Linked DNA regions of Homo sapiens. The protein of the gene in region 2 purifies or fractionates together with the protein of the main gene of each other region. This does not show direct contact. Each region holds a gene or a part of one and is shown on either strand. Other genes may lie near its edges.

The links. Proteins that work in one complex are often made in the same cells at the same time.
Region 1: the proteins of TRIM64 (region 2) and RRBP1 purify together in Homo sapiens (affinity purification with mass spectrometry, with the first as the bait; one large-scale study listed by BioGRID). This does not show direct contact.

What each region holds. Positions count from the first base shown.
Region 1 is NC_000020.11:17,661,592-17,666,121, reverse strand, and holds part of RRBP1 (ribosome-binding protein 1), read left to right. Parts: intron 1-4,530. UniProt on the Homo sapiens protein: Acts as a ribosome receptor and mediates interaction between the ribosome and the endoplasmic reticulum membrane.
Region 2 is NC_000011.10:89,963,744-89,969,637, reverse strand, and holds the start of TRIM64 (tripartite motif-containing protein 64), read right to left. Parts: upstream 3,602-5,894; 5' UTR 3,486-3,601; intron 1,139-3,485; 5' UTR 1,135-1,138; coding exon 727-1,134; intron 189-726; coding exon 93-188; intron 1-92.

The sequences.
Region 1 (4,530 bases), on a different chromosome or scaffold from region 2:
ACTCAGTGTGATTCAAATGCAAATTCCAGTAGAAATTTTGTAGGGGATGCTTAAGCTGAAAATGTGGCATTGATGCAGGGCATAAATATAACAGTGGAACAAAGTGTAGAATCTAGAAACAGATCCACTGAATGGCACAGAAATGGCCATCTGAGTCTGTGGGGGAAGGAAAAGACCAGTCAGGAAATGGTGCTGGGTAATTAAACTGATGGGGAAAGTTTTATCACTGTTTCCTGTCACATACCAAAGTAAATTCCTGGTAATTGAAAACCTGACTTTGAAATGCATTACCAAAGTCTTTTGAAGAAAATAACTTATAAACAGTAAAATGACTTCTGTCACAATGGTTATCTCCAGGAAGCGACCCTGGGTGGCTGGCTTCAGGGGTATAAAGGAGATTTTTCACTCATATGGTAGACATGTCACACTACAATTTTGTGTGACAGCATAAATTTTTAAAACCTAAAAGCATAGGAGTATGGCTAATAATTTGTGGTTCAACTATGTAATATAGGAGTGAAAATAAATAAACCCCAGCCTGGCCAATATGGTGAAACCCCGTCTCTACTAAAAACTACAAAAATTAGCTGGGCGTGGTGACACACGCCTGTAATCCCAGCTACTCGGGAGCCTGAGGCACAAGAATGGCTTGAACCTGAGAGGCAGAGGTTGCAGTGAGCCAGGATCATGCCACTGAGCTCCAGCCTGGGCAACAGAGAGAGACTTTGTCTCAAAAAAACAAAAAGAATAAACCAAAGCTATGTGTATCTATATGAATATTCTCACAAAGTTTAGTCAAAAAATGTTACCAAATAGCACCCAGAACAATGTCACTTACACAGCAATTACCAACACACAAAGTAACGGCTGTATTTTGTTGGTAGAGATAGATACATGTAATAGAAGCAAAAGCAGGTGGAAGTGGTAAGTGGCCCATTCAGGGTGTTGTCCCCCTCTAGAAGGGAGATGACATATATATACATATACACATGTGTGTGTGTCCCCCCCCCACATATATATGTATACACAGGCACATACATATATATATAAATAAATATCTAAAGTGCATATGGCAAAATGTTAGGGTTTGGTAAACCTGGGTGGTAGGCTAATGGATGTTCATATTTTTCTTTTTAGTCTTTTGTATGAGTCATTTCATAATATTTTAAAAATTAGGAGCTGTTGATTCTGATGTAGCCATGTCTGCTAGGGTCTCTGTTTTATTGTCATTCTGTTTTAGTTCTGTACCTTCCTAGCAGGTCACCTTATGCCCAGGAAATGGATCTGGGGGTTGGTTTTCTTTGTCCACCCCTACCCCACAGCTTCTCCAAGCTTCCACACACGGTCCCCCGTGGAGCTGCTGCTTAGTAATGAGACAGAGTCCTGGGAGCTGTTGAGGGTCTTTTCACAAAACCTACCAAAATCCCAGCTGCCAAATTGGACCCAACTGGCTTGGCCGGGCCATGTGAATTAGCAGATATCTTCTGTGTCTAAAGAGTTTGGGGCTTCCTCTTACTTTTGTTCCCCGAATCTTAAGAACAGAAGAAGAGCCATTCTCTCAAGATCTTAGAGGTGGGCCAGTGAGTTCAGTCTGTCCAGCCTCTGCGCAGCCTCCTACATCCTTCCCTCTTGGGGCCTTCATCTTTTTGTCTTACAGTCTGAGTATGTTAGCAATATCGTAGTCCCCCTTTATCTATGGTTTCACTCTTTGTGGTTTCAGTTACCAGCAGAAAGCTGTGGTCTGACAATATTAAATGGAAAATTTCAGAAAGAAACTCTTCCTGAGTTTTAAGTTGCATGCCATTCTGAGTAGCGTCTTGCCTGGGATGTGAACGATCCCGTGTGCAGTGGATTCACGCCGTCTGTGTTACCTGCCTGTGCGTCACTTGGTGGCCCTCTCAGCTTTCAGATCCACTGTCTGGTATCACAGTGCGTGTGTTTGAGTCACCCTTACTTTACTTAATCATGGCCCCAAAGTGCAAGAGTGGTGATGCTAGCATATGGTTATAATTGTTCTATTTTATTATTGTTAATCTCGTACTGTGGCTAATTTCTAAATTAAATTTCATCATAGGTATGTAGGTATAGGAAAAAAATAGTGTATATAGGATTCAGTATTACTGCAGTTTCAGACCCACTGGGGGTGTTGGGAAGTTTCCCAGAGGATAAGGGAGGACCACTGCAGGGAGTAAAAGTACGTATTTGACAGAAGTTTCTGGAATTGACAGAATATAGATCCCTGTGGTCAGACCCTACAAGGTATGGGTGGGCACACATCTGCCCTAACTCTGGTGCAGTGGAGGAAGCCCTAGAAGAGGTTTCTGTTGGGGGCCTCTTATCATGGTGTGGATTTCAGGAGCAAATCTCCCGGAATGCTGATTGTGAGAACCGAATTTGAGAGGCATCCCTGGCTTCATCATTTCTGTGAATCAGGGATCTCCCAGCATGATGTTTACGCCTCACTGAAGCTGACTCTGCAAAGCAGCAGAAAGGTTGTTTTTCATTTCGATTTCTTTGCTGTCCGTGGTGGTATTGCCTTAGCCTTAAATGTTTCAGTGTATTACTACTTAAGACTAGGGCTTTTCATTTTCTTGTGAAAGATTTCTTTTAAAAAATTCTAACTTGGGAATTAGTGGTGGGGATGTAATTTCTTTTTCTGCAAAAGTTGGGAAGACACATTTGTGCTGCTATAAAACATATATTTGTGTGCGTTGCAAAGGAAAAATATTCTCCCGAGTTTGTTTTTCTCGATTCTGGGTCCCAACAGAGAATATGTTTTTGTATTCTGTGTTTGCCTATGTTGAGTAAGATTAAAAGTTCATTTTCCAGCCTTGGCTTTTCTGCTGGAGTTTAGAAGTTGGAAACCACAAGGCTGCACAGAGCCCCACAGTCCTCGGCTGTGAACAGGCCCCGCTTTGTGCGTGGCTGTTCACTGTGTCACGGTCTGCAACCAGTGCCAATCGCGACTCGGTAAAGACCACCCCTCGAGCACATGGTTGTTGGGAAACGATTCGGGGTTTATGGAGCCTCAGTGAGGGTGACCCAGGCCCCTAATGTTCGTTTCTCTAGAGAAGGGGAGTGTTTTAGAGGATTTTTTATTTTTTTTTAAATAGAGATGGGGTCTCACTATGTTGCCTGGGTTGGCCTTGAACTCCAGAGCTCAAGCGATCCTCCCTCCTCAGCTTCCCAAGGTGCTAAGATCACAGGCTTGTACCACCATGCCTGGCCTTAGGATTTTTGAATGTAGTGATTATAATGTGGTGTCCATTTTGGCAGAGTTCTGAGAAATCTTGTAAGTACCCAGAGGAGTTTTGGTTGGTGGGTACCTGCCAAAAAGTGAGGGTTGACTGTACCATGTTCCAGACCTTCTTGTCCCCATCCTCCTACCCACTGAATCCATCCATGGCTGAGCAGGGTGCGATTTCCTTTTTAACACCCAGCTTGAGAGTGTGTTCTCGGAAGGCCAGTTCCTGGTATCCTCCCTCGATGATCAAACGTGAGAGTGCCCTGGCTGTGGATCACACTGTCACTGCCCACGGCCAGAGGTCAGAACCCATTTGGAAATATAAATGCTGCCTTACCCAGGATTCAAAGGCCTCCATGAGCTCCCCTAAGACTTTGTAGAGGTTAAGACTGGAATGAAAAGTGTGACTCAGTCTCGCTCAACGCCGAGTGACAGTGTGGGAGAAGTGTGTTGCCACAGCAGCTGATAGAGTTGTCCCCAGGGAGAGCATATGCTAGGAAGTTTCTTCGTCATGAGTGTTTTAAACCCTCTTCTTGTGAAGGTCTTAGAAAGGTCAAAGTAATGTGTTCCTTCTGTGATGAGAGTGATTTTTTTTTTTTTGAAAATTTTTTTTTTGAGACGGAGTCTCGCTCTGTCGCCCAGGCTAGAGTGCAGTGGCGCGATCTTGGCTCACTGCAAGCTCCACCTCCCAGGTTCATCCCATTCTCCTGCCTCAGCCTCCCGAGTAGCCTGGACTACAGGCACCCGCCGCCACGCCTGGCTAAGTTTTTTGTATTTTTAGTAGAGTCAGGGTTTCACCGTGTTAGCCAGGATGGTCTCGATCTCCTGACCTCGTGATCTGCCTGCCTTGGCCTCCCAAAGTGCTGGGATTACAGGCGTGAGCCACCGCGCCCGGCCGAGAGTGATTTTTCTTAGAACACAATGCCAAGACATTGAAAACAGTCTCCCTTCTCAGTCCCTTCTTTAAAATGCCCTCATGTCAAAATTTGGATTTGATTCCTACTCTGTTTCCTTCCTCTATAACCACTCAAGAGGAGTGGGGATCTCAATGTCTTAGGAGAAGAATCTCAGTATCTGAGCCACTAAGCAGCCTGGACCCAGTCTCCCACAGCATCTAGAGGTTTTGCAGGGCAATGCTGGGGGAGGCCTGTCCACTTCCCCTCCTCTCCTCTTCCACCTCCTTTTACCTCCCCTTAACCACCCCTTCTTACCCTTGTGTTCTCTTTGCTCATTCCATCGATCTTCTTTAGAGAGACTCGGGACTGGCTTGAATGTATCCAAATAAA
Region 2 (5,894 bases):
ATCTTGCAACGGGTAGTTTGAATTTAGCTAAAAAGTATAAGCTAACATTGTGTTTATTTGCATAAAAACAAAGAAAACATTTTCATTCTTACCTTTAACGAATGAAATGTTCTAGTTTCCTGATTTAGATTGTTTCTTGTCTCTTGATTGATTTCCCATAAATAGTCCATTTCCTTTATAAGTTTCTCCTGCAAAAGAAGCAAGAAGCTTAGCAATAATGAAGACAGTATAGTAGATTTCATACCCTTATCAATTAAAAAAAAAGGCTGTAATTGAAAGAAACATAAATTAAGTTGGAGTGAAGTGGTCAGATTTTTCCAAGTTAAACACATTTGGTTCTAATAATTTGGATGTGAAAAGTGATAGAAACATAATAGAGAGTTTTAAGGGACCCTTCAGATAATATCATCAATATTCTGAGAAACTGGCTTTCAGATAACCTGACTTTGAAAAGTGTTCTTGGTGCTGGCCACCAGCTCCACAGCTCCATTCTACACGTTTGAACAATGTTTCTAAGGAAACCTCCTTTAGCGAAGTCTCAACACAGCTATGATTAGAGTGCCAAATTAGCCAGCAACATTGAAAGGACACATTTATGTGTTATGATTGACATGGAATAATCACCACCTCCACCATCTGCATTCTCATCACCATCATTATCACAGGCCCTCATCATTCTTATTTGGGATTCTGTATAATTCAAACTGCCTTAGAGGCATCACGTACCCTGCATTCCTCAGCAGCCCATCCTATTGGGCTGTGGCTGTGAGCCATGTGCTCTGGTGACTCAGAGCAGGGCCCACAGAGCAATCTCTTGTCAGCCTCACAGAAGAGCTCCTTAGTCTCCTCATGGAGCACACAGATATTGTCTGAGCTGTTGATGTTCTGAGGTCTGGTCTGTCTGGCTAGGGAAGACAGCTTTTTGAGTACCACATTGGTGTTGAAGTTGGGCTTCTCTGAGATTTTTCTGCACGAAGGGCAGCGCATTGGTGCTCTGCCTTCTTCTGAGCAGAGGCAGAGGCAGGGCCTGCAAAAGCTGTGCCCACAGTCAATGGTGACCGGATCTATGAAGTAGTTCACGCAAATGCAGCAAATGAGCTCATTCTGGAAGACTTGCAGGTCGTCTGAATCCATGTTTCTGGAAATTAAAAAAAAAAAAAAGTGAGAATTTCTTTCTCTTATTTTTATTTACCCCGATGAAAAGGAAAGAAAGGCCGGTGGACAATTTTCCTTGTCTACTTGAGCTCTGTCCAGCATGTCTAATAAGTTAGCTCCAGCACAAACTGAGACATAGTAAATTCATACATGCTGGATTTATAAAGTTTTCCCTCAATAGCCATCGAAGATTCGGTCAAGGACTCCCTGAGAACCAAGATCCTAAGATGTTCAAGTCTCTTATTAGTAAATGGTGTGAATTTGTATGTAACCTAAACCTATCCTCCTGAATACTTTATGTCTAGATTACTTTGAATGCCTAATACAATGTAAATGCTGTATAAATACTTGTAATGCCATACTGTTTAGGAACAGCAAGAAGATTAAAAATATGTACATGTTTGGCAGGGCGCGGTACTCATGCCTGTAATCCCAGCACTTCGGGAGGCCGAGGCGGGCAGGTCACGAGGTCAGGAGATCGAGACCATCCTGGCTAACACCGTGAAACCCCGTTTCTACTAAAAATACAAAAAATTAGCAGGGCGTGGTGGCACGTGCCTGTAGTCCCAGCTATTCGGGAGGCTGAGGCAGGAGAATCGCTTGAACCCAGGAGGCGGAGGTTGCAGTGAGCCGAGATCGCACCACTGCACTCCAGCATGGGTAATGGAGTGAGACTCTGTCTCAAGAAAAAAAAAAAAGTACATATTCAGTACAGCTGCTTTTTTCACCCTGTAAATATTTTTTATCTGAGATTAGTTGAATCCACGGGTATGAAACTTATGAATATGAACAACGAACAACTGTGATGCAAATGAGAAAATGAGACAACAGTCCTCATGGCATTTTTGTTAAACAAGCCGTGCTCTCAGTCATTCCCAGTTACCTAGACAAGCTTAAAGCCTGGGTGGAGGGTAAAAGCTGGGATGATTTCTGAGTCACTTATGTAAGCTAATTAACGAAGAAGCACATTCTGAATGTCATCCTGTTTCTGTCATTCTATCTCTCTCAATAATTCCATGATGATAATATATGAAAGACACTTAGTATCTATGGTATTATTCTATACTCCCTGCCTCCAAACTCACCTATGAAGTTTGCTCAGACAATTATAAATAAAGTAGCTTTTATCTAAGATTGAGTAATCACAGTGGACTGTCAACTCCTAAAATTATCAACCATTAAATTTGTCCTTTTAACTTTAATATCAAAACTCTTCCTTTCAATACATTAAATGTAAATAATATCTATTATTTTTAATTAGGAAAGTTTTTTCCCATTGTCAATTCTGATGATTAGAGAGAACACTTTCACATTCTGAAATAGCCAATATTTCAACTATAATTAACAAGAATTAATCAACAACTAATTATCTTCTAAAATAACAAAAAAAAAGTGAAGATATGTATTAGGTTTTCCACTCTACACTAGAAAATCCAGAAATGCAGTTAATGGAAGCATGGCCGCCAATTCACCTTTCGCTTAGTGACTTGGAAGTTGCAGCTTCTTGGGAGCCCTTGCCAGTTGGTTAGATCTATTGATCTATTTTCTTTCTTTCTTTTTCTTTCTTTTTTTTTTTTTTTTTTTGTTGCTGTTGTTGAGATGCAGTCTCACTCTGTTACGCAGGCTGGAGTGCAGTGGCACGATCTCGGCTTACTGCAAGCTCCACCTCCCAGGTTCAAACAATTCTCCTGCCGCAGCCTCCTGAGTAGCTGGTATTACAGGTGCCCACCACCACGCCAGGATGATTTTTTTGGATTTTCAGTAGGGACTAGGTTTCACCATGTTGGCCAGGCTGGTGTCTAACTCTAGACCTCAAGCGATCTGCCTGCCTTGGCCTCTCAAAGTGCTAGGCTGCAAACATGAGCCATCATGCCCAGCCGATTAAATCTATTTTCAACAGCTTTCAAATCTAGTCTGCAAATTGCAAATTTTGAAGAGACAGCAAATAAGACCTTTGCAACAAGAATTTTCAAAGTAATTCAACATTTTTAACGTTCGCTTTGGCTTACGTTATAACCACTACTACATGCCCACATTCTGGTGAACATTTTAGGTATTTTATGGGTTCTATCATTGCATGAAACTATGGAAATATATCTTTTCACACTTAAGAAAAATCTAACAATACAGAAAACAGTCACATAGTCAAATAGCAAGGGAACACAAACCATATCTTACAAATTGAAGATACTTTATATTGATTTTCTGTAAAATCACTAAGACAGTCATTTGTTTGCTTAGAAAAGACCCAAGCATGCTGCCAGGTAAATTTAAAGCATGTTTAAGAGTAAAAGTGAGCATGATGGTTTTGCTGCACACTGTATACTCACAAGGCTACTATGAATGGTCTCAGTCTAGAAACTCTGTAGATATCCAGATTAGAAGTCACTCCTGGCTCTTCAAAGCCCAGCAGCCACAAATCCAGTGGGTCCTCACTGAAGGAGAGAGAAATCTCTGGACAAGCATCCTTTTAAAGTGTATGGGCCCACGAAAGACCACACCCACTTCCTGAGGTTGATTAGATTGCGTAGAAAGGGGTAAATTGGCTGATTAGGTTTATAAAGTATTGAAAACCAGACTTGAGGGCTCAAAGCTCAACAGACAAGTTTGGAATGAGATGCAAGAAAGTTGACTTAACACTGTTTATTCAAAGAAATATTTTAAGTGTAACAATTATTTCACTACATATTATCACATGCTTTTTTTTTTTTTTTTTTTTTTTTTTGAGACGGTATCTCGCTCTGTCGCCAAGGCTGGAGTGCAATGGCTCGGTCTCAGCTCACTGCAACCTCTGCCTCTGGAGTTCAAGCGATTCTCCTGCCTCAGCCTCCCAAGTAGCTGGGATTACAGTCGCCCGCCACTACCCCCAACTAATTTTTGTATTTTTAGTAGAGACGGGGTTTCACCATGTTGCTCAGGCTGGTCTCAAACTCCTGATGTCAGGTAATCTGCCCACCTCGGCCTCCCAAAGTGCTGGGATTACAAGCGTGAGCCACTGCACCGGGCCACATGCTAACTTTAAAATTTTGTTTCTCACTCTGTTTTAAAATTATAATTGCTTAAGTGCCTAGCCGTTATTTGTCTGAATATGTTCAAAGATAAAACATTAACTGGGATTACCAACATATCTGTGCTGTGTCACTCTCTTGTTTAAAAAAGTATAACAAGGAACTCAATTGTGTTTCACAAAATTGTATATATAATGGTTGATATAATTAGCTGTATCGGCCTGTTTAACTTATTTTTACTATTTTATGACTATTTCCTAATGATGGATTTATATGAAAATAAAATCTGTTTTTTATTTATCCACCCTTTTCAATAATTTTAAAACTGAAACTTTACATATATATGTACATAACTATCTATAACAATGTTACGTATTCATATTTTTAAAATTATATAATAATTATTTACACAATAATAATAATTATTGTTACTTTTTTTTTGACATGCAGTCTCCCTCTGTCACCCAGGCTGGAGTGCAATGGCACGATCTCGGCTCACTGCAACCTCTGCCTCCCAGGTTCAAGTGATTCTCCTGCCTCAGCCTCCCGAGTAGCTGGGATTACAGGTGTCTGCCACCGTGACCGGCTGATTTTGGTATTTTTAGTAGAGATAATGTTTCACCAAGTTGGCCAGGCTGGTCTCGAACTCCTGACCTCAGGTGATCCGCCCATCTTGGCCTCCCGAAGTGCTGGGATTACAGGCATGAGCCATGGCACCTGGCTGCTATTTATACAATAATTATGTGCATAATTATCTTTAATGGTGCCTGAAAGTTATTTTTAACATGGTTGCCATACTAACCGATTTTGTTGTCGTTTACCATGATTTAATAAATCACCAATGTTTATACATAGTTGTATTCATAAATTATCTAATGTTTGGGGAGTTAGGTCATTTCTGTAAACTTAAAATTAACAAACCTTGCTAGAAGTTGAAAAAGTAAAAATCTATATAAAGTCACCATTTGCAGATTAATAGACATTTAAAAAATTATAAAATTCATAAAAGCCAGCATATCCTAGAAAAAGATGAAGTGGCTGTCTTTTTAATCAGTCCATGGCATTGCAAATTAGTATGTTTTCTGAAGTGTCATTTGATCAGCATTATGCTTCAAAAAATATATCCAATAAAGATAAGAAAAGGTAATCATAGATATATATATATATGCAGACTTTTCCACAAACGTTATTCTTTGAAAACAGATTCAAACACTTCTTAAAATGTTGCATATTATCTACTAAGTGTAGAGAAGAAAGACTTTCTGGTATTCTCACTTCTCAGTAAAAATTCAATTCTACATTTTGTAGACTGCCCCGTATTAGACAGAAACAAACAATAAGCAACTTATGAGATGCATATAAAAGAATAAAAAATAGTTGCAAATTTTAGTGCTGGAAGCTGAAAAAGTTATTATCTATTTTACTACAACTGTGTTATCATGCAGGATAGGTAAGAGAGAAAAAGTAGTATTTCCTTACCTAACTAAAAAATACTCTGTCATTCAAGTGAAAATATCAGACATTTATTGATTACCAATTCTATGCTAAAAACTGTTCTAAGTGCTTCACATGTTCTAGCTTACTTAATTGTTACAGCAACCCCATAAGATAAATAATATTTTATACTCATTTAAAGATTAAGAAACGTAAGAACAGGAAGCTTTAATAATTTGCCCATAGGCATACTCTAATTAAGTAGGAGAACTAGGGTTTGAAACCAGGCAGTCTGTC